Homo sapiens: one gene and its partners. The protein of the gene in region 1 purifies or fractionates together with the protein of each later gene. This does not show direct contact. Each region holds a gene or a part of one and is shown in the gene's direction. Other genes may lie near its edges.

Evidence for each region.
Region 2: the proteins of PLVAP (region 1) and LMAN2L purify together in Homo sapiens (affinity purification with mass spectrometry; 3 studies listed by BioGRID and IntAct, with this or other methods). This does not show direct contact.
Region 3: the proteins of PLVAP (region 1) and OSBPL11 purify together in Homo sapiens (affinity purification with mass spectrometry; 3 studies listed by BioGRID and IntAct, with this or other methods). This does not show direct contact.

What each region holds. Positions count from the first base shown.
Region 1 is NC_000019.10:17,367,335-17,374,358, reverse strand, and holds part of PLVAP (plasmalemma vesicle-associated protein), read left to right. Parts: intron 1-7,024. UniProt on the Homo sapiens protein: Endothelial cell-specific membrane protein involved in the formation of the diaphragms that bridge endothelial fenestrae. It is also required for the formation of stomata of caveolae and transendothelial channels.
Region 2 is NC_000002.12:96,737,058-96,744,998, reverse strand, and holds the start of LMAN2L (VIP36-like protein isoform 2 precursor), read left to right. Parts: upstream 1-4,934; 5' UTR 4,935-4,958; coding exon 4,959-5,145; exon of another isoform or gene 5,146-5,159; intron 5,160-6,931; coding exon 6,932-7,050; intron 7,051-7,781; exon of another isoform or gene 7,782-7,862; intron 7,863-7,941. UniProt on the Homo sapiens protein: May be involved in the regulation of export from the endoplasmic reticulum of a subset of glycoproteins. May function as a regulator of ERGIC-53.
Region 3 is NC_000003.12:125,550,491-125,557,514, reverse strand, and holds part of OSBPL11 (oxysterol-binding protein-related protein 11), read left to right. Parts: intron 1-4,835; coding exon 4,836-5,334; intron 5,335-7,024. UniProt on the Homo sapiens protein: Plays a role in regulating ADIPOQ and FABP4 levels in differentiating adipocytes and is also involved in regulation of adipocyte triglyceride storage. Weakly binds 25-hydroxycholesterol. Interacts with OSBPL9 to function as lipid transfer proteins.

The sequences.
Region 1 (7,024 bases):
TGAGTAGCTGGGACTACAGGCGCCCGCCGTCATGCCTGGCTAATTTTTCTATTTTTAGTAGAGACCGGGTTTCACTGTGTTAGCCAGGATGGTCTGGATCTCCTGACCCTGTGATCCACCCGCCTCGGCCTCCCAAAGTGCTGGGATTACAGGCGTGAGCCACCGTTCCCGGCTGTTTTGTTTTATTTTGTTTTGTTTGAGACAGGGTCTCCCTCTGTTGCCAAGGCTGGAGTGCAGTGGAAGGTCTCGGCTCACTGCAACCACTGCCTCCCAGGCTCAAGCGATTCTGTTGCCTCAGCCTCCCGAGTAGCTGGGATTGCAGGTGCGCCCCACCATGCCCGGCTAAGTTTTGTATTTTTAGTAGAGATGGGGTTTCACCATGTTGGCCAGGCTGGTCTCAAACTCCTGCCTTCAAGTGATCCACCTGCCTTGGCCTCCCAAAGTGTTGAGATTACAGGAGTGAGCCATTGCGCCTGGGCAGCAGAAGTTTTAAACCCTTTGCAGGCAGGAAAGTGAAGGCATGAGAGGGGAGGTGACTTTCTTGAGGTGGCAGAAACAGGCGGGCTCTCTGGGCAAAGTCACAGCTGCAAATCTGGGGTCTCCTGGAGACCATCGCGCCACTCTCGCACCCCGGCTTGTGTCAAACTCACTAGACAATTATCCCCGTGTTCTCAGACACAACTTCATCCAGGGGGTGTCCCGCCTGCCCTGAGACATTGTGGGGAGCAGGTGTGGGGCTCTCTCCTTAAGGGTGAGGTGGGTGAGAGATGGGAGGGTGGGGTGAGGGAAGGCTGAAGAGGCAGCTTCAGGGTCTTCCAAGGAGGTGACCTGGCTGGCCAGGGCCCAGGCAGTGGCAAAGACAGACCTCCCATAGGACCTCAGACCACCCAGCCGTCCGCACTGGGCAGGAAGGTAAGCTCAGCCCCCTCAGTCCTGCTCAAGGCAGAACTCAGTCTCCTCACCTCAGACCCCTAATGGCGGGGCCCTACCTCCACCTCAACCCCTCGCCCAGAGCCCCAGGGGTAGGGCCCTGTCTCTATCCGCCAAAACCCCGGGGCAAAGCACCGTCTCCCCAGATGCCCAGAGTATGGTAGGTCTCACCTCAGCCCCCCAAGATGGGGTGGAACACCCCTCAGTCCCCAGGGCATAACTGTGCCCCTCCCTCAGACCCTCCCAATAGGGTCCTGCCTGCCCCTTAGATCCTCAGATTAGAGCCCTGCCTCCCCTCTCAGACCTGAACCTGGCTAACTGGTGTCTTTTCTTTCTTTTTTTTTTTTTTTTTTTTTTTTTTTTGAGACAGAGTCTAGCTCTGTCGCCAAGGCTGGGGTGCAATGGCGCGGTATCCACTCACTGCAACCTCTGCCTCCTGGGTTCAAGCAATTCCCCTGCCTTAGCCTCCCGAGTAGCTGGGTCTACAGGTGCCCGCCAACATGCCCTGCTAATTTTTTTTTTGTATTTTTAGTAGAGACGGGGTTTCACTATGTTAACCAGGATGGCCTCAATTTCCTGACCTCGTGATCCGCCCGCCTTGGCCTCCCAGTGCTGGGATTACAGGTGTGAGCCACTGCACCTGGCCTGTCTTTTCATTTAAAAAAAAATTATTGGCCGGGTGCAGTGGCTCACACCTATAATCCCAACACTTCGGGAGGCCGAGGTGGGTGGATCACTAGGTCAGGAGATCGAGACCATGCTGGCTAACACAGTGAAACCCCGTCTCTACTAAAAATACGAAAAATTAGCCAGGTGTGGTGGTGGGCGCCTGTAGTCCCAGCTACTCGGGAGGCTGAGGCAGGAGAATGGCATGAACCCGGGAGGCGGAGCTTGCAGTGAGCCGAGATTGCGCCACTGCACTCCAGCCTGGGCGACAGAGCGAGACTCCGTCTCAAAAAATAAATAAATAAATAAATAAAAACATTATTTAATTATTTTATTATTATTATTACTATTTTTGACACAGAGTTTCACTCTGTCGCCCAGGCTGGATTGCAGTGGCGCAATCTCAGCTCCCTACAACCTCTGCCTCCCGGGTTCAAGTGATTCTCCTACCTCAGCCTCCCGAGTAGCTGGGATTACAGGCACCCGCCACCAAACCCAGCTAATTTTTTGTATTTTTAGTAGAGATGGGGTTTCCCCATGTTGGCCAGGCTGGTCTGGAACTCCTGATCTCAGGTGATCCACCTGCCTCAGCCTCCCAAGACACCTCTTCTCTATAAAAAATAAACTAAAAATTAAAAAAGAAACTTAAAAATCACATCCTTTTTTTTTTTTTTTTTTTTTAGAGACATGGTGTCACTACATTGCCGAGGCTGGTCTCGAACTCCCAGCCTCAAGCAGTGTTCCCACCTCAGCCTCCTAATGACTAAGGCTTTTGAGAACAGAAGGCATTCCCCATGTCCCCCCAGGACATTCACCCAGGGCCAACTGCAAAAGGATGAAGGACAGAGAGTTGCAGAAAGACAAACTCTCCTGATTCTTCATGTCTTATTATATTTCTGCAGAGGGTTCTCTTCCAAAGTTTGAAAGGCATGGCTTTAGTTTGTTAAATTGTGAACACTTTCTTTAAAAACAGCTTTGCTGGCCAGGCGTGGTGGTTCACACCTGTAATCCCAACATTTTGGGAGGCCAAGGTGGGTGGATTGCTTGAGCTCAGCAGTTTAAGACCAGCCTGGGCAACATGGTGAGACCCCATCTCTATAAAAAATTAGCCAGGAGTGGTGGCACGTGCCTGTAATCCCAGCTACTTGAGAGACTGAGGTGGGAGGATTGCCCGAGCCTGGGGAGGCTGAGGCTGCAGTGAGCTGTGATCACACCACCACACTCCAGCCTGGGTGGCAGAGTGAGACCATGTCTCAAAAAAAATAAAATTAAATTAAAATAAAAATAGCTGGCCGGGCGTGGCAGCTCACGTCTGTAATTCCAGCACTTTGGGAAGTCAAGGCAGGAGACTGAGGCCAGTGGATCACTTGAGGTCAGGAGTTCGAAACCACCTGGCTAACATGGTGCAACCCCGTCTCTACTAAAATACAAAAATTAGCTGGTCATGGTGGTGCACCCCTGTATTCCCAGCTACTTGGGAGGCTGAGGCATGAGAATCACTTGAACCCAGGAAGTAGAGGTTGCAGTGAGCTGAGATCACACCGCTGCACTCTAGCCTGGGCCACAGAGCGAGACTCCATCTCAATAATAATAATAATAATAAATAATTTTTAAAAACAGCTTTATTGATATATAATTCATGTATTTTACAATCCACCTATTTAAAGTGTACAATTTGATGTTTTTGTTTGTTTGTTTGTTTGTTTTGAGATGGAGTCTCGCTCTGTCGCCCAGGCTGGAGTGCAGTGGCGCGATCTCAGCTCATTGCAAGCTCTGCCTCCCAGGTTCACGCCATTCTCCTGCCTCAGCCTCCCGAGTAGCTGGGACTACAGGCGCCCGCCACCACGCCTGGCTAATTTTTTGTATTTTTAGTAGAGATGGGGTTTCACCGTGTTAGCCAGGATGGTCTAGATCTCCTGACCTCGTGATCCGCCCGCCTCGGCCTCCCAAAGTGCTGAGATTACAGGCGTGAGCCACCGCGCCCAGCCAATTTGATGATTTTTTTGTAAATTCACAGAGTTGTACATTGATCACCACGATCCATTTTAGAACATTATTTTAGAACATTTTCACCTTCCCAAAAGAAAACCCACGTCCCCATCAGCAGTCACTTCCCATTCCCCTCCCCCAATCCCTGACAGCCACCAACCTGCTTCCTGTCTCTATGGATTTGCCTGTTCTGGGCATTTCATGTCAGTGGAATCTCACATTCTGTGGCCTTTTGTGTCCGGCTTCTCTCACTTAGGCATCATGTTTTTGGGGTTCACACACACTGCAACATGGATCAGTGCTTCCTTCCTTTTTATGGCTGAATCATGTTCTATGTATGGAAGGAACACATTTTGTGCGTTAATTCATCTGCTGACAGGCATTTGGGTTCTTTCCACCTTTGGCTACTGTGAATCGAGCGGCTGTGGACATTCCTGGCAAGTTGATGTGAGGATGTGTTTCCATTGCTCTGGGTATATGCTGAGAAGTAGAGTTTCTGGGTCACGTGGTAACTATGTTTAACATTTTGAGGAACTGCCAGACTTTCCCAAAGCCGTTGCAACATTGTACATTCTCACTAGTACTGTCTGAGAATTCTGATTTCCCCACATCCTCATCAACACCTGTTACTGTTCATTTTGGGGGTTTATGGGTTTTTAAAATAGCCACCCTCGTGGGTGTGTAGTGGTATCTCACTGTGGTCCTGATTTGCATTTCCGTAATGGCTAATGATTTTGAATATCTTTCTTTTTTTTTTTTTTTTTTTTTTTTTAGACAGACTCTCGCTCTGTCACCCAGGCTGGAGTGCAATGGTGTGATCGTGGCTCACTGCAACCTCCATCTCCCGGGTTCAAGCAATTCTTCTGCCTCAGCCTCCCAAGTAGCTGGGATTACAGGCACCTGCCACCAGGCCTGGCTAATTTTTTTGTATTTTTAGTAGAGATGGGGTTTCACCATGTTGGCCAGGCTGGTCTCGAATGCCCAACCTCAGGTGATCCACCTGTCTTGGCCTCCCAAAGTGCTGGGATTATAGGTGTGAGCCACCGCGCCCAGCCGATTTTGAATGTCTTTTGATATGCTCTTTGGCCATTTGCATATCTTATTTAATTTAATTTTAATTTTTCTTTTTTTTTTTTTTGGACATAGAGTCTCACTCTGTTCCCCAGGTTGGAGTGTGGTGGCACAATCTCATCTCACTGCAACCTCCGCCTCCCGGATTCAAGCGAGTCTCCTGGCTCAGACTCCCAAATAGCTGGGACTACAAGCATGCGCTTCCATGCCTGGCTAATTTTTGTATTTTTAGCAAAGATGGGGTTTCGCCATGTTGGCCAGGCTGGTGGTGGGCAGATCACTTGAGGTTAGGAGTTCGAGACCAGCCTGGCCAACATGGCGAAACCCTGTCTCTACTAAAAATACAAAAATTAGCCAGGTATGGTGGTGCACACCTGTAATCCCAGCTACTCGAGAGGCTGAGGCTGGGGAATCACTTGAACCCGGGAGACGGAGGTTACAGTGAGCCGAGATCGTGCCACTGCACTCCAGGCTGGGTGACAGAGCAAAAAACCCTGTCTCAAAAACAACAACAAAAAAAAAAACAAAAAAAGGTTTTTTTTAAAGACTGTTGTTTGCCTCATGAGATGGTGTTAGCATTTGTATTAATTTGCTAGGGCTTCCATGACAAGGTATTACAGACTGGGTGGTACCAAGATCAAAGTGTTAGCGGGGTTGGTTCCTTCTGAGGCTGTGAGGGAAGGATCTGTTCCAGGTTTTTGTTTGTTTGTTTGTTTTTTTGAGACGGAGTCTCGCTCTGTCACCCAGGCTGGACTGGAGTGCAGAGACGCGATCTCGGCTCACTGCAACCTCCGCCTCCCCGAGTTCAAGCAATTCTCTGCCTCAGCCTCCCCAGTAGCTGAGATTACGGGTGCCCACCAACATGCCCTGCTAATTTTTTTGTATTTTTAGTAGAGATGGGATTTCACCATCTTGGCCAGGTTGCTCTTGAACTCTTGACCTCGTGATCCACCCGCCTTGGCCTCCCAGAGTGCTGGGATTACAGGCGTGAGCCACCATAGCCGGCCTGTTCCAGGTCTTTCTACTTGGCTTGCAGGTGGCATCTTCTTCCTGTGTCTGCTCTTGGTCTTCCTTCTGTCCGTGTCTCTGTGTCCAAATCTCTTCTCTTTATAAGGACATCAGTCATGTTGGATTAGGACCCACCCTAAGGACCTCACCTTAACTTAATTACCTCTCTAAAGACCCTACTTCTGCCAGGAGAGGTGGCTCACGACTATAATCCCAGCACTTTGGGAGGCCGAGGGGGGCGAATCACCTGAGGTCAGGAGTTTGAAACCAGCCTGGCCAACATGGTGAAACCCTGTCTCTACTAAAAATACAAAAATTAGTTCGGCCGAGTGCGGTGGCTCACACCTGTAATCCTAGCACTTTAGGAGGCCGAGGTGGGCGGATCACCTGAGGATGGGAGTTTGAGACCAGCCTGGCCAACATGGAGAAACCCTGTCTCTACTAAAAAATACAATATTAGCCAAGCATGGTGGTGCGTGCCTGTAATCCCAGCTACTAGGGAGACTGAGGCAGGAGAATCACTTGAACTCGGGAGGTGGAGGTTGCAGTGAGCCGAGATCATGCCATTGCACTCCAGCCTGGGCAAAAAGAGCGAAACTCCGTCTCAAAAAAAAAAAAAAAAAAAAAAAATTAGCCGGGCAGGGTGGTGGGCCCCTGTAATCCCAACTACTCGGGAGGCTGAGGCAGGAGAATCACTTGAACCCGGGAGGCAGAGGTTGCAGTGAGCTGAGATCGAGCCATTGTACTCCAGCCTGGGTGATAGAGCGAGACTCTGTGTAAAAAAACAAAAAACAAAAACAAAAAAACCCTACTTCTAAATACAGTCACATTCTCAGGTACTGGGGATACAGTTGAGCTCATAGCAGCATCCTTGTCCAAATCAGTTGACCATAGCCAGGCATGGTGGTGCACACCTGTAATCCCAGCAATTTGGGAGGCTGATGGGGGAGATCGTCACCACCCTGGTAAACATAGTGAAACCCCATCTCTACAAAAACAAATTTAAGGCTGGGCATGGTGGCTCACGCCTGTAATCCCAGCACTTTGGGAGGCCGAGATAGGCGGATCACCTGAGGTTGGGAGTTCAAGACCAGCCTGACCAACATGGAGAAACCCCATCTCTACTAAAAATGCAAAGATTAGCCGGGTGTTGTGGCGCATGCCTGTAATCCCAGCTACTCAGGAGGCTGAGGCAGGAGAATCGCTTGAACTCGGGAGGCGGAGGTTGCAGTGAGCCGAGATCGCGCCATTGCACTTCAGCCTGGGCAACAAGAGCGAAACTCTGTCTCAAGAAAAAAAAAAAAATTTAAAAATCAGTCAGGCGTGGTGGCACAGGCCTGTAGTCCCAGCTACTGGGGAG
Region 2 (7,941 bases), on another chromosome or scaffold:
ATTCCCCATCCTTTTGTCTTCCTTCCATCTCACTTTGTAGACTCCGTTGTCCAGGCTGGAGTATAGTGGCGCGATCTTGGCTCACTGCAACCTCTGCCTCCCAGGCTCAAGAGATTCTCATATCTCAGCCTCCCAAGTAGCTGGGATTACACACACGTGCCATGATGCCCGGCAAATTTTTTATGTATTTTTAGTAGAGACAGGGTTTCACCATGTTTGTTGGCCAGGCTGGTCTTAAACTCCTGACATATGATCTGTCCGCCTCAGCATCCCAAAGCGCTGGGATTACAGGCATGAGCCACTGCGCCCAGCTGAGAGATGGCTGTCTTAACGGACTACCCTGCTCTGGAATATCCCAAGATAAGACCCACTTCCACCCTTCCTCAGTGACTCAGATAAGACCCTCTCCATCCTTCCTCTCACGAAAGATCCCTTGTTTACCTGGATTACCCCAGGTCTCCTTCCTTTTGTTTTGCTTTGAGATGGAGTTTCACTCTTGTTGCTCAGGCTGGAGTGCAATGGCGTGATCTCGGCTCACTGCAACCTCCGCCTCCTGGGTTCAAGCAATTCTCCTGCCTCAGCCTTCCAAGTAGCTGGGATTACAGGCACCATGCCTGGCTAATTTTTGTATTTTTAGTAGAGACAGGGTTTCACCATGTTGGCCAGGCTGGTCTCGAACTCCTGACCTCAAATGATTCCGCCCTCCACCCCCACCTCGGCCTCCCAAAGTGCTGGGATTGCAGGTGTGAGCCACCGAGCCCCGCCTGTCCTTCCTTTCCTTTTTTTTTTCTTTTGAGATGGAGTCTCACTCTGTTGCTCAGGCTCGAGTGCAGTGGCATGATCTTGGCTCACTGCAACCTCTTCCTCCTGGGTTCAAGCGATTCTCCTGCCTCAACCTCCCGAGTGGCTGGGACTACAGGTGTGCACTACCACGCTTGGCTAATTTTTGTATTTCTAGTTGAGATGGGGTTTCACTATATTGGCCAGGCTGGTCTCGAACTCCTGACCTCATGATCCACCCGCCTCAGCCTCCCAAAGTACTGGGATTACAGGTATGAGCCACCGGGCCTGGCTCTTCCTTTTCTTTGATACATTCCTCATTAATAAGCATTCTTCCTATTGCAACAGTCTGAACAAAATGATTTGATTTATAGTCCAGTGCATCTCACCTTTCACACCCTTCTCCTTTATTCCCCTTTTCCTCATCACACAGAATTTTACAATGAGATTTCTGCTTGTGTCAATCTATCAGAAATTCAGCTGACAGGGTGCATGACACTGCGAATGAATTTAATGCCTTTGAACTGAACACACATGGTCCTGACTTAATGATGGTTTGACTTAGGATTTTTAGACTTTAGGATGGGTTTAGTTTTTCTGTAGGTAACCCCATTGTAAGTTGAGGACCATCTGTACTTAAAAATTATACGCTGTATTTTATGTATTTTTTTTCTTTTTTTTTTTTGAGACAGAGTTTCACTCTTGTTGCCTAGGCTGGAGTGCAGTGGCGCGATCTTGGCTCACCGCAACCTCCACTTCCCAGGTTCAAGCGATTCTCCTGCCTCAGCCTCCCAACTAGCTGGGATTACAGGCATGCGCCACCACACCCGGCTAATTTTGTATTTTTAGTAGAGACGGGGTTTCTTCATGTTGGTCAGGCTGGTCTCGAACTCCCGACCTCAGATGAGCCACCCACCTCGGCCTCCCAAAGTGCTGGGATTACAGGTGTGAGCCACCGCGCCCGGCCTTTATGTGCATTTTACTACAATTAAAAATTCATCTTGCAGAGAAATGCAATGGAAATAATTTATTCAAAACAATTAGAACCCCTACTATGTGCTGGGTGATAGGTTGGGGTTGGGGAAATGGGTGGGGCCTGAGTTAGGAAATGAGTAAGACCTGCTTCCTGTGGTCCTGGAGCTCCCAGCCTTGCTGCGGAGACAAACCCATAATCTGTTAATTGAGCTCCATAATTCCAGGTGACACACATTACAGTACACATGCGTAGCGCCTGATTTCAGTCAGGATGCAAAGGGCTTTGAATGCTACACTAAGGACTTTGGATTTTGGTAATTGGGAGTTATGAATGGTTTTAAAGCCAGTGTATGACACGAACAGATTCATTGCAATTCCTAAAGTCTTAGCACCAGACATTTGACATTGTAGGGTGTCAAAGACTGATGGCAGTGACAGGCTGGGCACCATGGCTCACACCTGTAATCTCAGCACTTTGAGAGATGAGGTGGGAGGATCGCTTAAGGCCAGAAGTTCAAAACCAGCCTGGGCAACATAGAGACCCCCATCTTTAGAAAAAATTTTAAAAATTAGCTGAGGCTCACCCAGCAGTTTGAGACTGTAGTGAGCTATGATCACAGTACTGCACCCCAGCCTGATGGATTGAGACCCCATTTCTTCTTTTTTTTGTTTTTTTGAGACGGATCTGCTGCTCAGGCTGGAGTATGGTGGTGGGATCTTCTTGACTCACTGCAACCTCTACCTCCTGGGTTCAAGTGATTCTCCTGCCTCAGCCTTCCAAGTATCTGGGATTACAGGCACCTGCCACCACGCCCATTTAATTTTTGTATATATATGTATATATATATTTTTCGAGACGAAGTCTCACTGTGTTGCCCAGGCTGGAGTGCTGTGGTGCGGTCTCGGCTCACTGCAACCTCCGCCTTCTGGGTTCAAGTGATTCTCCTGCCTCAGCCTCCTGAGTAGCTGGGACTACAGGCGTGTGCCACCACGGCTGGCTAATTTTTTGTATTTTTAGTAGAGATGGGGTTTCACCATGTTGGCCAGGATGGTCTTGAACTCCTGACCTCAGGTGATCCGCCTGCCTCCCAAAGTGCTGGGATTACAGGCCTGAGCCACCGTGCCCAGCCAAGACCCCATCTCTTTAAAAAAAATAGCTGTGACAGCTTTAATTTTAAAAAGTTGATCCCCTGTAAAGTAGGCTCATAATTATGTTTATCTTATTAAATATATTCATGCTCAGGAAAGCAAGAGAGTGTTAACTTTGGTTAAGTCTATTGGGAAGACATAAACACAGATCTGTCAATTGCTCTATATGAGATGTGCATGGAACACTTTGAGAGCTCAGACAGGAGAATCTACCCTGCCTGAGAGGTTTGAGAAGGACCTCCAGAAGGAAGTGGACTGCAGAAAAAAAAAAGAGGGAAGGGAAGCTGGAGCATAAAGATGGAGGAAAAGAGTCATGGGCAATAAGGCCAGGGCCAGATGGCAGGGGGCTTTGTGTGCCAAATTGAGGGGCTTGAATCTCCTCCCCACAGGTGATGGTGAGCCATCAAAGGCCCGGTTAATAAGAATGATGATGATGAAATAGCGCTTATGGCTTGGTGCGGTGGCTTACACCTCTAATCCCAGCACTTTGGGAGGCTGAGGAGAGAGGATCACTGAAGTCTAGAAGTATGAGACAAATCTGGGCAACTTAGTGAGACCTCCCCCACAACCCCATAGCTACAAAAAATAAAAATTAGCAAGGTGAGGTGGCACACACCTGTAGTCCCAGCTACTTGAGAGGCTGAAGTGGGAAGATCCCTTGAGTCCAGGAGGTTGAGGCTGTGGTCATGCCACTGCACTCCAGCCTGGGTGACAGAGAGAGACCCTGTCTCAAAAACAAAAACAAAAACAAAAACAAAAAAAAAAAGAAAAGAAAAAAGAAAGAAATAGTGCTTACTACACGCAAGGCACTGTTCTAAGAGGTTTACCAATATTGACTCATTTAACCCTGACACTTACCATGGTTAGATAGTTTGGATCACTTTAGTGGCTACGTGGAGACCAGTCTGGACACATGTTGTGGTGCCGGATAAAGACGAAGGGATGTGCCTGTAGTCCCAGTAACTCAGGAGGCTAAGGTGGCAGGATCACTTCAGCCAGGGAGGGAGAGGCTGGAGCTGAGATTGTGCCACTGCACTCCAGCCTGGGCAACAGAGCAAGACCTTGTCTCTCTTTTTTTTTTTTTTTTTGAGATGGAGTTTTGCTCTATGTGGCCCAGGCTGGAGTGCAATGGCTTGGTCTCGGCTCACTGCAACCTCTGCCTCCCAGGTTCAAGCGATTCTCCTGCCTCAGCCTCCCAGTAGCTGGGATTACAGGCACGTGCCACCACGCCTGGCTAATTTTTTTTTTTATTTTTAATAGAGACGGGGTTTCTCCACCTTGGTCAGGCTGGTCTCGAACTCCCAACCTCAGGTGATCCGCCTGCCTCGGCCTCCCAAAGTGCTGGGATTACAGGCGTGAGCCACCGCGCCTGGCCAAGACCTCGTCTCAAACCAAAAAGAAAAAAAAGAGGAAGGGAGGAAAGGAGGTGATGGCTTTTAGAATTAATTAATTTGTGTGCTTTCAGTTCTTTTATATCTGTAGGTTGCTTGATGGCCCAGACTATCACGGCAAAGGAGTCATTTGCATTTGAAGAGAATGTGTCTTCCGCAGTTGTTAGGTGGAGTTTCTATAAATATCATCAGGTCAAGTTAGTTGGTAGTGCTGTTCAAGTCTTTTATAAATTGATAGTTTTCCAGCTATTTTACGGATTTGTCTATTTCTCCTTTCACTGCTATATCTTCCAAATTGATTCAGAGAGCTGCAGTCAGGAGCGTACTATTGCAGAGAGGATAGAATGTTTGGGACCAGAAGAAACGTTTTATCTCTTTAAATTTACTCTCGTACGCAGAAAACAAAATACAAATAAACTACGTATCCCAGCAAGCCTAGTGGAACTCAGGGCAAATGCAAATAAGGGGGGGGGCTGGGCATTCGGCTACGCCCCTTTTCTGGGTTGGCAAGGCAACTGATACAGAAGCCAGCCAATCGGTGATATAGTCACCTGCAGGGGCGGGGGCTTGACGAAAGCCAATAGGACGCAGGGCAGATGGCTCTTCGGGCCAATGGGTTGGGCGACGGGGCGGGCTTTTGATGAAGGGTCGTTGGTGGGAAAGATGGCGGCGACTCTGGGACCCCTTGGGTCGTGGCAGCAGTGGCGGCGATGTTTGTCGGCTCGGGATGGGTCCAGGATGTTACTCCTTCTTCTTTTGTTGGGGTCTGGGCAGGGGCCACAGCAAGTCGGGGCGGGTCAAACGTTCGAGTACTTGAAACGGGAGCACTCGCTGTCGAAGCCCTACCAGGGTGAGGCGCCCAGGGTGAGGTGGTCGTGCAGTGGGGCGGGCTTCGGGACTTGATTTCAGGGGTAGAGGCGGGGGCGGCGAAGGGCTTCGTGGCCCGGAGGAAACTGCTGGCGGTGGTGGGGCCCACGGAGACTCCCTCCGCGTTTGGGAGCCACAGGTCTGAAAGGCAGGAGTTAGGTGTGCCTGCCAAGCTCTGGAAGTTTCCAGTAGGTAAAGGCAGGGCTGTCGGGTGCCACTAGTACTAGGCCTGGAGTTAGACAGGAGGAGTTTGGGAAGGGGAGAGAATTGAGAATGGTGAGGAGTGATTGAGGGCTACTAGCAATGAGCCAGTCTCCAGATGGACCTGTGGATGTGCTAGAAATAAAGCAGGAGGAAGAACTGGGGTAGAACTTGAACGAAATGAGAAGATGATAAATTTATGTTGCTGGGTAGAACCACCTTCTCTTCTCCAGCCTAGGGGCCCTGTTGGTGAAAGAGGTTAGGGTTCACAGAACTCTAAGCACAGCTTATCAGCCAGAAAATTAATGCAGTTAGCCACAAAACGATGACAAACCAGTGCAGATGGCTTAACTAACACAAGTCTTTCCCCACTAAGGCGTAGGTAGTGGGACAGAAAACAATTCAAAGTGCAAGAGTATACTCTACTACTAAGGGTAATCATTTATTCACTTACATGCCTGGAGTGCCTCTGTGCTGTCTCTTTGCTAATGCTTATGGGTTTGCAGACACAAAGTTTTCATTCTTAAAGAAGTTTATAGGTGAGGGTACAGGGAGTAGCTTCACACTTTAAGGATTGTTTAAAGAAAGAATGTGACGGCTGGGGCGGTGGCTCACGCCTGTAATCTCCGCACTTTGGGAGGCCGAGGTGGGCGGATCACGAGGTCAGGAGATTGAGACCATCCTAGCTAACACGGTGAAACCCCATCTCTGCTGAAAATACAAAAAAATTAGCCAGGTGTGGTGGCGGGCGCCTGTAGTCCCAGCTACTCAGGAGGCTGAGGCAGGAGAATGGCGTGAACCCGGGAGGCAGAGCTTACAGTGAGCCGAGGTCATGCCACTGCACTTCAGCCTGGGCAACAGAGCGAGACTCCATCTCAAAGAAAAAAAAAAAAGGAAGAATGTGACTAAGCCCCGGAGGCCTGAGGGTCAAACTCTTTTTATTTATATTTATATATTTTTAGAGACAAGGTCTTGTTCCGTTGCCTAGGCTGGAGTGCAGTGGCACAATCATGGCTCATGCAGTTTCAATCTCCTGGGCTCAAGCGATGCTCCCAACTCAGCCTCCTGAGTAGCTAGGACTATGGACAAGGACTACCACACCTGGCTAATTTTTTTTTTGGTAAAGACAGGGTCTTTCTATGTTGCCCAGGCTGGTCTCAAATTGCTGACCTCAAGATGCCCTCCCTCCACATCATCTCAAAGTGTGGGGATTACATGGGTGAGCCACTGCACCTGGCCTGTCAAACTCTTTTTGATATAACTCAGGAAAATTTTTTTCTTTTACGATGCTGAAGTTTACTCACATATAAAACGGGAAGAATGGATGTGAGCTATGGTTACTGTAACATGCATAAAGTGAGAGTTCTGATGTGCTTTGGGGTCCTTACCTGATAAAGGCCTTGTGAAAGCTGTAGAGATGGTAAGATTCATGACTGAGAGAAGATAGGAGATTGAGTGACATTAAAGGGGGAAAAAGATGATGGCTCAGCTTTCAGAGGCTCTGTGGTGGCTGCTTTCTGAATGGATTGGTGTTGAAAAGTATGAACTGATCTACTTCCTTCCTGTAGGTGTGGGCACAGGCAGTTCCTCACTGTGGAATCTGATGGGCAATGCCATGGTGATGACCCAGTATATCCGCCTTACCCCAGATATGCAAAGTAAACAGGGTGCCTTGTGGAACCGGGTGGTAAGAATCTTTCTCCCTCCTGTGTTGGTGACCCAGAAAGGCCTAAAAAGTTCAGCAGTGGCATACTGATTTAATTTTACTGTCTATCCCCCTGGTATTCTATCTTCTGTGGATATCAAGGATCTTTATTTTTGAGATTATTCTGACCTTGATAATAAATAAATCAGGTATTTAGGAAAATGCTCTCTATTTAATTATAGCAAATAATTCATTTTTTTTTCCTGAAATGTCGTTAATTCCTGATTGGCCCAATAGTACTACTTCTTAGGGTTTAATAATAACTTAACTCCTGCTTAACCACTTTGTAAGAAGATTATAAGAAGACCAGAGTGCAGTGGCACAATCATAGCTCACTGCAGCCTCAAACTCCTGGGCTTAAGGGCTCCTCCTGCCTCAGCCTCCTGAGTAGCTGAGACTACAGGCATGTGCCACTGCACCTGGCTAATTTTTAAAACGTTTTTTGTAGAGATGGGGTCTTGCTATGTTGCCCAGGCTGGTCTCAAACTCTTGGTCTCAAACAATCCTCCTGCCTTGGCCTCCCAAAGGTCAGGGATTATAGGTGTGAGCCACCGGTCCTGGTTGAGAGTACTCTTAAATTGATCCCAAACCTTATCCCAGCATCCCCATCTTGTTATTTCAATTTGAAGAGTCTGATATAAAATTTTATTTTCATGTGAAAGCCACTCTGAGCTGTTGGTCATTTTATTTGTCCTTCTCTGGACCTTTTCTAGCTGCATTGTCTTCCTTGAGGTATGGCGACAAGAAGTGAATGCAGTATTCCTGGTGTGGCTGCACTGTGATTTTGTACAAGTGTAAGATGATGCTTTCTTTTCTGTTTCCAGGGCTTTCTAAATCTTTTACGACCAGTTTACTTTTGGGCATGACTCTGGC
Region 3 (7,024 bases), on another chromosome or scaffold:
AGCTGCTCAGGAGGTTGAGGCAGGAGAACCGCTTGAACCCAGGAGGCAGAGGTTACAGTAAGCTGAGGTTGCGCCACTGCACTCTAGCCTGGGCGACAGAGCTAGATTCTGTCTCAAAAAAAATAAACAAATAAATAAAAATAAAGAGCCTGGTGACTAAACTGCAGTCACAGCTACCTCTTATCTAACAATAACACTTAATTAACAAATATTTACTGGGCCCCTGTTATATTCCAGACACTGTGCTAGGTCTTGGGACAGGAACAAATAAGATAACCATGGTCCTAGCCTTCATGTTGTGAATAAGTAATATGCATTTTCCTACTGTTCATTTTGTTTCTTTTTAAATAATATTATGAAATTATATAAACACAAAATTTTAGAAAACTAAAGAAAATCTATCATTTTACTACCCTAACATAACAGAGCTCTCACTTTTATCTTTCTTCACATTGTCATAGTTTATATGGAATTTTGTTTTACTTCCTTTTTTCAGTTAATTTTTGTGTGTATGAAATGTGTTAAACACACAGAAGACTGAATGGTATACATATAAACATTCAAAGAAAAAAGATAAAATGAATACCCATGTATCTACCTCTGACATTAAGTTGTAGAACACTGCCTGAACTTGGAATCTCTGAGTTCCCCTCTAATTTATAGTCCTCTACTTTTTCCTCCATAAAACAATTTACTTGACTTGTGTGTTAATTATCCCTCTACTTTTTGCTATAGTTTTACTGCTTTTTTGTACTCCATAATGATGTTTAGGAAAAAATGAATAGCTAACATAAGCTTAGCATAAGGAAAGGACTGTGTTGCCATTTGTAGAAAGCAGCTCCCAGAAAAAGACAAGTTAAACATTTGAGTCTCTGGCTTTAGCTTCTTATAAGTTATTGAGAAAGTTTAGAAGAGCCCTTTCTTGTGAAATTATAAGGCAAAGTTGTGAGTCCTGTAAAATATACATCCCAGAGCATTTGGTGTGAGTCAGCTACAGGAGGAATGTGGGCTGGGGGAGTGAGCTGCTCAGTATTTTCAGTTTCAAAGCAAACTGTGACCTACCTCCAACTCTGAGGAATAGATTGAAGTCAGAAGGCTTCTTTCGGGGAAATGAGCATCTTCAGCCAATCCAGACAGCAGAACATGGAGAGGAGACTAAGAACTTCACCAGCAGATAGTCAACACAAGCCAAATACAGATACACTTGGGATCAGTTTCACTAGGCTATTTTATCCTGAGGTTTGAAAAGATGATACAATGGCAGCATGAAGCATGTGGATGACAGTCTTCAGTATGTCTGTCTCTTGAGTCACATCACTCTAATCTGGACCAGTATTTCCTTTAGCATTCTCTTTGGCTAATCCGTTTACTGTATCCGTTTCTTCTTTCTTGGTTGCCTCTCATTTTGTTGGAATATATCCTCCATTAATTTCTCAGAAAGATTTGTAAGAAGCGAATGTGAAAATGTGTGTCTGAAATGTCTGTGTTGCCCTCGTGTTTCATTGCTGGTTTAGATAGAATTTGTTACTTGTGGCCAGGTGCAGTGGCTCACGCCTGTAATCCCAGCACTTTGGGAGGCCAAAGCAGGCAGATCACTTGAGGCCAGGAGTTTGAGACCAGCCTGGCCAACATGGCAAAATCCCCTCTACTAAAAGTACAAAAATTAGCCAGGCATGGTGGCACATGCCTGTAATCCCAGCCATTCAGGAGGCTGAGGCACAGGAATCACTTGAACCTGGGAGGTGGAGGTTGCAGTGAGCTGAGATGACGCCACTGCACTCCAGCCTGGGTGACAGAGCGAGACTCCATCTCAAAAAAAAAAAGATAATATCTCCGTGCTGCAGGGTTCTAATGAAAAGACTGAAGTCATTCTGATTCCTGATCTTTTGTTTGTGACTTGTTTTGTATGTTCTTCTCTCCAAAATTGTTTAGAATCTTCTCTTTATCATGTCTTGGTATTGTGACATTGATGTAGGTTTCTTTTATCCATTGTATCTGGGCACTTGGTGGGCCTTTTCAGTGTGACAACTCATGTTTTTGAGTTCTCTGAAATTTTCTTGAATTATTTCTTTGATGATTGTATTAGGGTTCCTAGAAGGACAGAAATAAGAGGATAGATGTATATATAAAGGGGAGTTTATTAAGGAATATTGACTCATACAGTCACAAGGTAAGGTCTCATAATAGGCCATCTGCAAGCTGAGGAGCAGGGAATCCAGTCCGAGTCCCCAAACCTCAAAAGTAGGGAAGCCAGCAGTGCAGCTTTCAGTCTGTGGTTGAAGGTCCAAGAGTCCAAAAGCGAAGAACTTGGAGTCCGATGTTCAAGGGCAGGAAGCATCCAGCAGGGGAGAAAGATGTAGGCCAGAAGACTCAGCAAGTCTAGTCCTTCCATATTCCCCTGCTAGCTTTTATCCTAGCAGCTGATTAGATGGTGCCCACACAGATTGAGGGTAGGTCTGCCTCTCCCAATCCACTGACTCAAATGTTAATCCCCTTTGGCAACACCCTCAGACGCACCCAAGAACAGTACTTTGTATCCTTCAATCCAATCAAGTTGACACTCAATATTAACCATCACAATGATTTTTCTTTCTTCTATTTTGTTTGTTTGTTTGTTTGTTTTCTCTGAAATCCTTATTATATGGCCATTGAACTTCCTGGTCTGGTCTTTTATTGTTCTCTCATACTTTTCTTTTTCTCTCTTTGTCTGTCTTCTGTGTTATGGGAGATTTCCTCGCCTTTTATCTTTTAACTCTTCTTTTGACTTTTAATTATTGTCATGTTTTTAAATTTTCTGATTTTTTTAAAAAGCATTCTTGTATGTATATAATATCTTCTTAATTCTCTGAAGATATTATTTTTTATTTTTGTTTTTTCCCCTCCTTTGAGGTTTCTGTTTCCTCCAAATCTGTTTCTTTATTTTGTTCTTTATATTCCTAGTTAGAGGTTTTCTCAGAAATCAGATCTTCTGCTCACAATTAAGTTTAGGGAAACTAAAATCTGATTTTAAGCTTTAACACGTAGGTGGCGCCTATGTTTTTCATTGTCCCATAATCTGGATGGGCCATTTGTTGGGAGACTTGGTGTCAGTATCATTAGGTTTTTCTTCTAGGTTTAGTCAAATTTCCCAGAAGAAAAATTTTTTCATCTCATACTTGGTGACTCCAAAAGGAGTTAAAAAGGAGAAGAAGGCTGCATGAGAGAGGGTGTTAATAGCTAACGTTTAGTTTATATGGAGTTATTAAATGCCCTTGTTATGTATCACTTGGTATCCACTCTCTTAGAATTCCTTGCTATTCTCCAGTCTAGAGAATAGACCACCTTGTTTATCCAGAGGCTAAACCTCTAGACTTTGAGGTCCAAGAGGGTAGTTACTAACAGTGTGGAGTTGGGGGTTTGAGTTAGGCATCTAATTGCTTTCCATACAGATTTTACTCAGTTATTTTTATTTTATCATTTCTGTGAATCCCCAGATCCAGAGGTACCTAGTGCGATCAGCTCCTGAGCCTTTTTAGGAATCTGTGCATATTGTAACCTACTGCCTAAGTTTCAGCTTTCTAGTTAGGAACTCTCAAAATTTTGTTGTGTTTTGTCTACTTTCCTGGTATCTCTGGGTTTGTCTTTATATGAAGTTAATTTAATTTCAGTGGAATTTCGACAGAAAGTGAAATTAAGATGCATGTGTTCAATTCACCAGCTGAACCTGCAACATCCACTGTCTTTTGTATTATTTGTATCATCTTCAAAACCGTCTTTTTAAATGACTATAATAGTCAATTAAATGAAAGTTCCCTACTTCAGTTAGCTAGAACCGTAGTTTAAAATGCAGGTTGTTCTAATTATTTTTTCACATTGCTTTTCCTTCATTCAATTATTTATTTCCTAAGGCTAGATTCTTGGAATGTAAGTACTAGGCTAAATGGGTAAGAACATCTTAGGGCTCTTGAAAAATATTGCCAGATTTTGCTTTCTCAGACGTTTAAACCATTTTGCAGTGCCTCTCCCAACTCTGCTTTAAGTAAAATATTTATCTTTCTTACACTTACCTGGTTTTAAGTATAAAAATTTCTCTTATTGGAAATAGTTCTCTTGTGCTTAAGATTAAATATATGTTGCAGTTTTTGCTTCGGTCTGTGATCTCTTTAGTCTGTTCTCAGGGAATGACATTTATTGACTTTTCTCATGTCTTGGTCATTCATCTACAATTTAATTTTAACATAGGAAAGGAGCAAAGGCATGGCTAACATTTACTTTGAGTTTTAACACCATTTCCCTGGTGATACTTTTATCCAGTCTAGAAGTTTGAGGATTTTTTTGAAGTTTCTTCTGACTCTCTTGAATTTATGTTTAGTCTTGGGCAGATTTGCCTGTCCTTTTAAGAATGCTTTTTTGTTGTTGTTGTTAAGACAGGGTCTCACTCTGTTGCTCAGGTACAAGTGCAGTGGCGCAGTCATGGCTCATTGTAGCCTTGACCTCCCAGGTGATCCTCCCACCTCAGCCTCCTGAGCAGCTGGGACCACAGGCACAAGGCACCATGCCCAGCTAATTTTTGTAACTTTTGTAGAGACACGGTTCCACTATGTTGCCTCAGCTGGTTTCGAACTCCTGTGCTGAAACAATCCTCCCAACTTGGCCTCCCAAAGTGCTGTGATTATAGGCATGAGCCACTGCGCCTGGCCAAGAATGCTTATTTTTTAATGTGACTGAATACTTTTTCTTTGTGACTTTGTTTTTAATACCCATCTAGAATGAAATGTTTTCAGAGAGAGAATAGTTGTCTACAGATATGCTACACATGGATTAAATTTCCCCTCTTTCATTGATTGTTGTTTTAGGTGGTGCTTCCTACATTTATCCTAGAGAAGCGTTCCTTGCTGGAAATGTATGCAGACTTTATGTCTCATCCAGACCTATTTATAGCCATCACTAATGGAGCCACAGCTGAGGACAGAATGATTCGCTTTGTTGAGTACTACCTTACCTCATTTCATGAAGGCCGTAAGGGAGCCATTGCTAAAAAACCATACAATCCTATCATTGGAGAAACATTTCACTGTTCCTGGAAGATGCCAAAAAGCGAGGTAGCATCCAGTGTTTTTAGCAGTTCTTCCACCCAGGGAGTCACAAATCATGCTCCTTTATCGGGGGAGTCTTTGACCCAGGTGGGATCAGACTGTTACACAGTCAGATTTGTTGCTGAGCAGGTTTCTCATCATCCTCCAGTCTCAGGATTTTATGCAGAATGTACAGAGAGGAAGATGTGTGTAAATGCGCATGTCTGGACTAAGAGCAAGTTCTTAGGCATGTCAATAGGCGTGACAATGGTTGGAGAAGGTAAGTAGAAAAATTATTTTATATATATATATATATATACACACACACATATATATATGTATTTTTTTTTCCAAGCAGGAATGAAAGTTTACTTTAAAAGGCTTTAGAACAGGAAAGAAAGGAAAGTTCGCTTGGGAGAAACCCAAGCAGGCACGTGAAGGTCAAGTGCCTGTTTTATAATTTTTAATATCAAACTACAATCTTAAATTTAGGAACCCCAGATAAATATTAACTCTAAGTTTAAAATATTATGTTACTTTTTCGCTCCAATTTCTAGAGTGTTCCAGAATGCTTCTTGTGGGGATGGGAGGAGTATATCTATGAACTAATGTAAATTCTCTTTTTAAATTATTTTTTTCTGATTTTAAATATTTCTTTTCGTTTGTTTTCTTTTCTTTTTTTTGAGATGGAGTCTCGCTCTGTCATCCAGGCTGGAGTGCAATGGTGCTATCTCCGCTCACTGCAAACTCCGCCTCCCAGGTTCAAGCGATTCTCCTGCCTCAGACTCACGAGTAGCTGGGATTATGGCGCCTGCCACCATGCCACCACACCCAGCTAATTTTTATATTGTTAGTAGAGATGGGGGGTTTCACCATGTTGGTTAGGCTGGTCTCAAACTCCTGACCTCTGATGATCCACCCACCTCGGCCTCCCAAAGTGATGGGATTACAGGCATGAGCCACCGTGCCTGGCGATTTTAAATATTTCTTATCAAATATTTGGAAAACTAGAAAAGTACAAAGCAGAAAATAAAAGCTTCTGTAATGCCTGCATCCATATATATATAAATTTAATATTTTATACTTTTTCTGTGTGTGTATGTTCATACTTTTAGCCTTATAAAATTAGAATTAATAATATATATAGTTTTGAGTCCTGCTTTTTAAATTAAATATATTCATTTTATCATGTCATTGATAAAACATATTTTAATGACTGCATAATATTCTATGAAATAGATTTTCCATCCTTTTTTTTAATTTAATTTAATTTAATTTTTTTTTTTTTTTTTTTTTAGAAACAGGGTCTTGCTCTGTTGCCCAGGCTGAAGTGCAGTGGCATGGTCATAACTAACTGCAGCCTTGACCTACTCGGCTCAAGCCATCCTCCTGCCTCAGCCTCCCAAGTAGCTAGGACTACAGGCATGCACCACCATGCTAGGCTAATTTTTTTAATTTTTATTTTTAGAGACAGGGTCTCAATATGTTGCCCAGGCTGGTCATGAACTCCTGGGCTCAAGTGATCCTTTGGCCTCCACCTCCAGGCATTAGCCTGTAATCTCAGCACTTTAGGAGATGGAGGCCAGAGGTGCTATTCATAGAATATTTAGGTGCTATTCATAGAATATTTAAAAATATATGCTGATAAAAGTTAATTCTACTTCATCAGAAGATTATGAAAAAATTATTTTTGGAAATGCAGAGTTTTTTGACCAAGAATATGAAACAAAAACAAAAATCTCCACAGAAATTATTGAAGAGTTAATGAAAATATAATGATAGGAAAAAAATACCACTTTTATGTTAAAGGAAAACTCTTATGCAAAGAACACTATGCTCTGAATGTCATCTTACAGTGTAAGCATGGCATCATTAAGCCAATCTAATATTTTGAGATTGTGTTATAGTCGTTATGAAGAAAGTATCCTCTTTTTCAGTTTTCCTCATTTTTAAGTTCTGTTGTAATATGT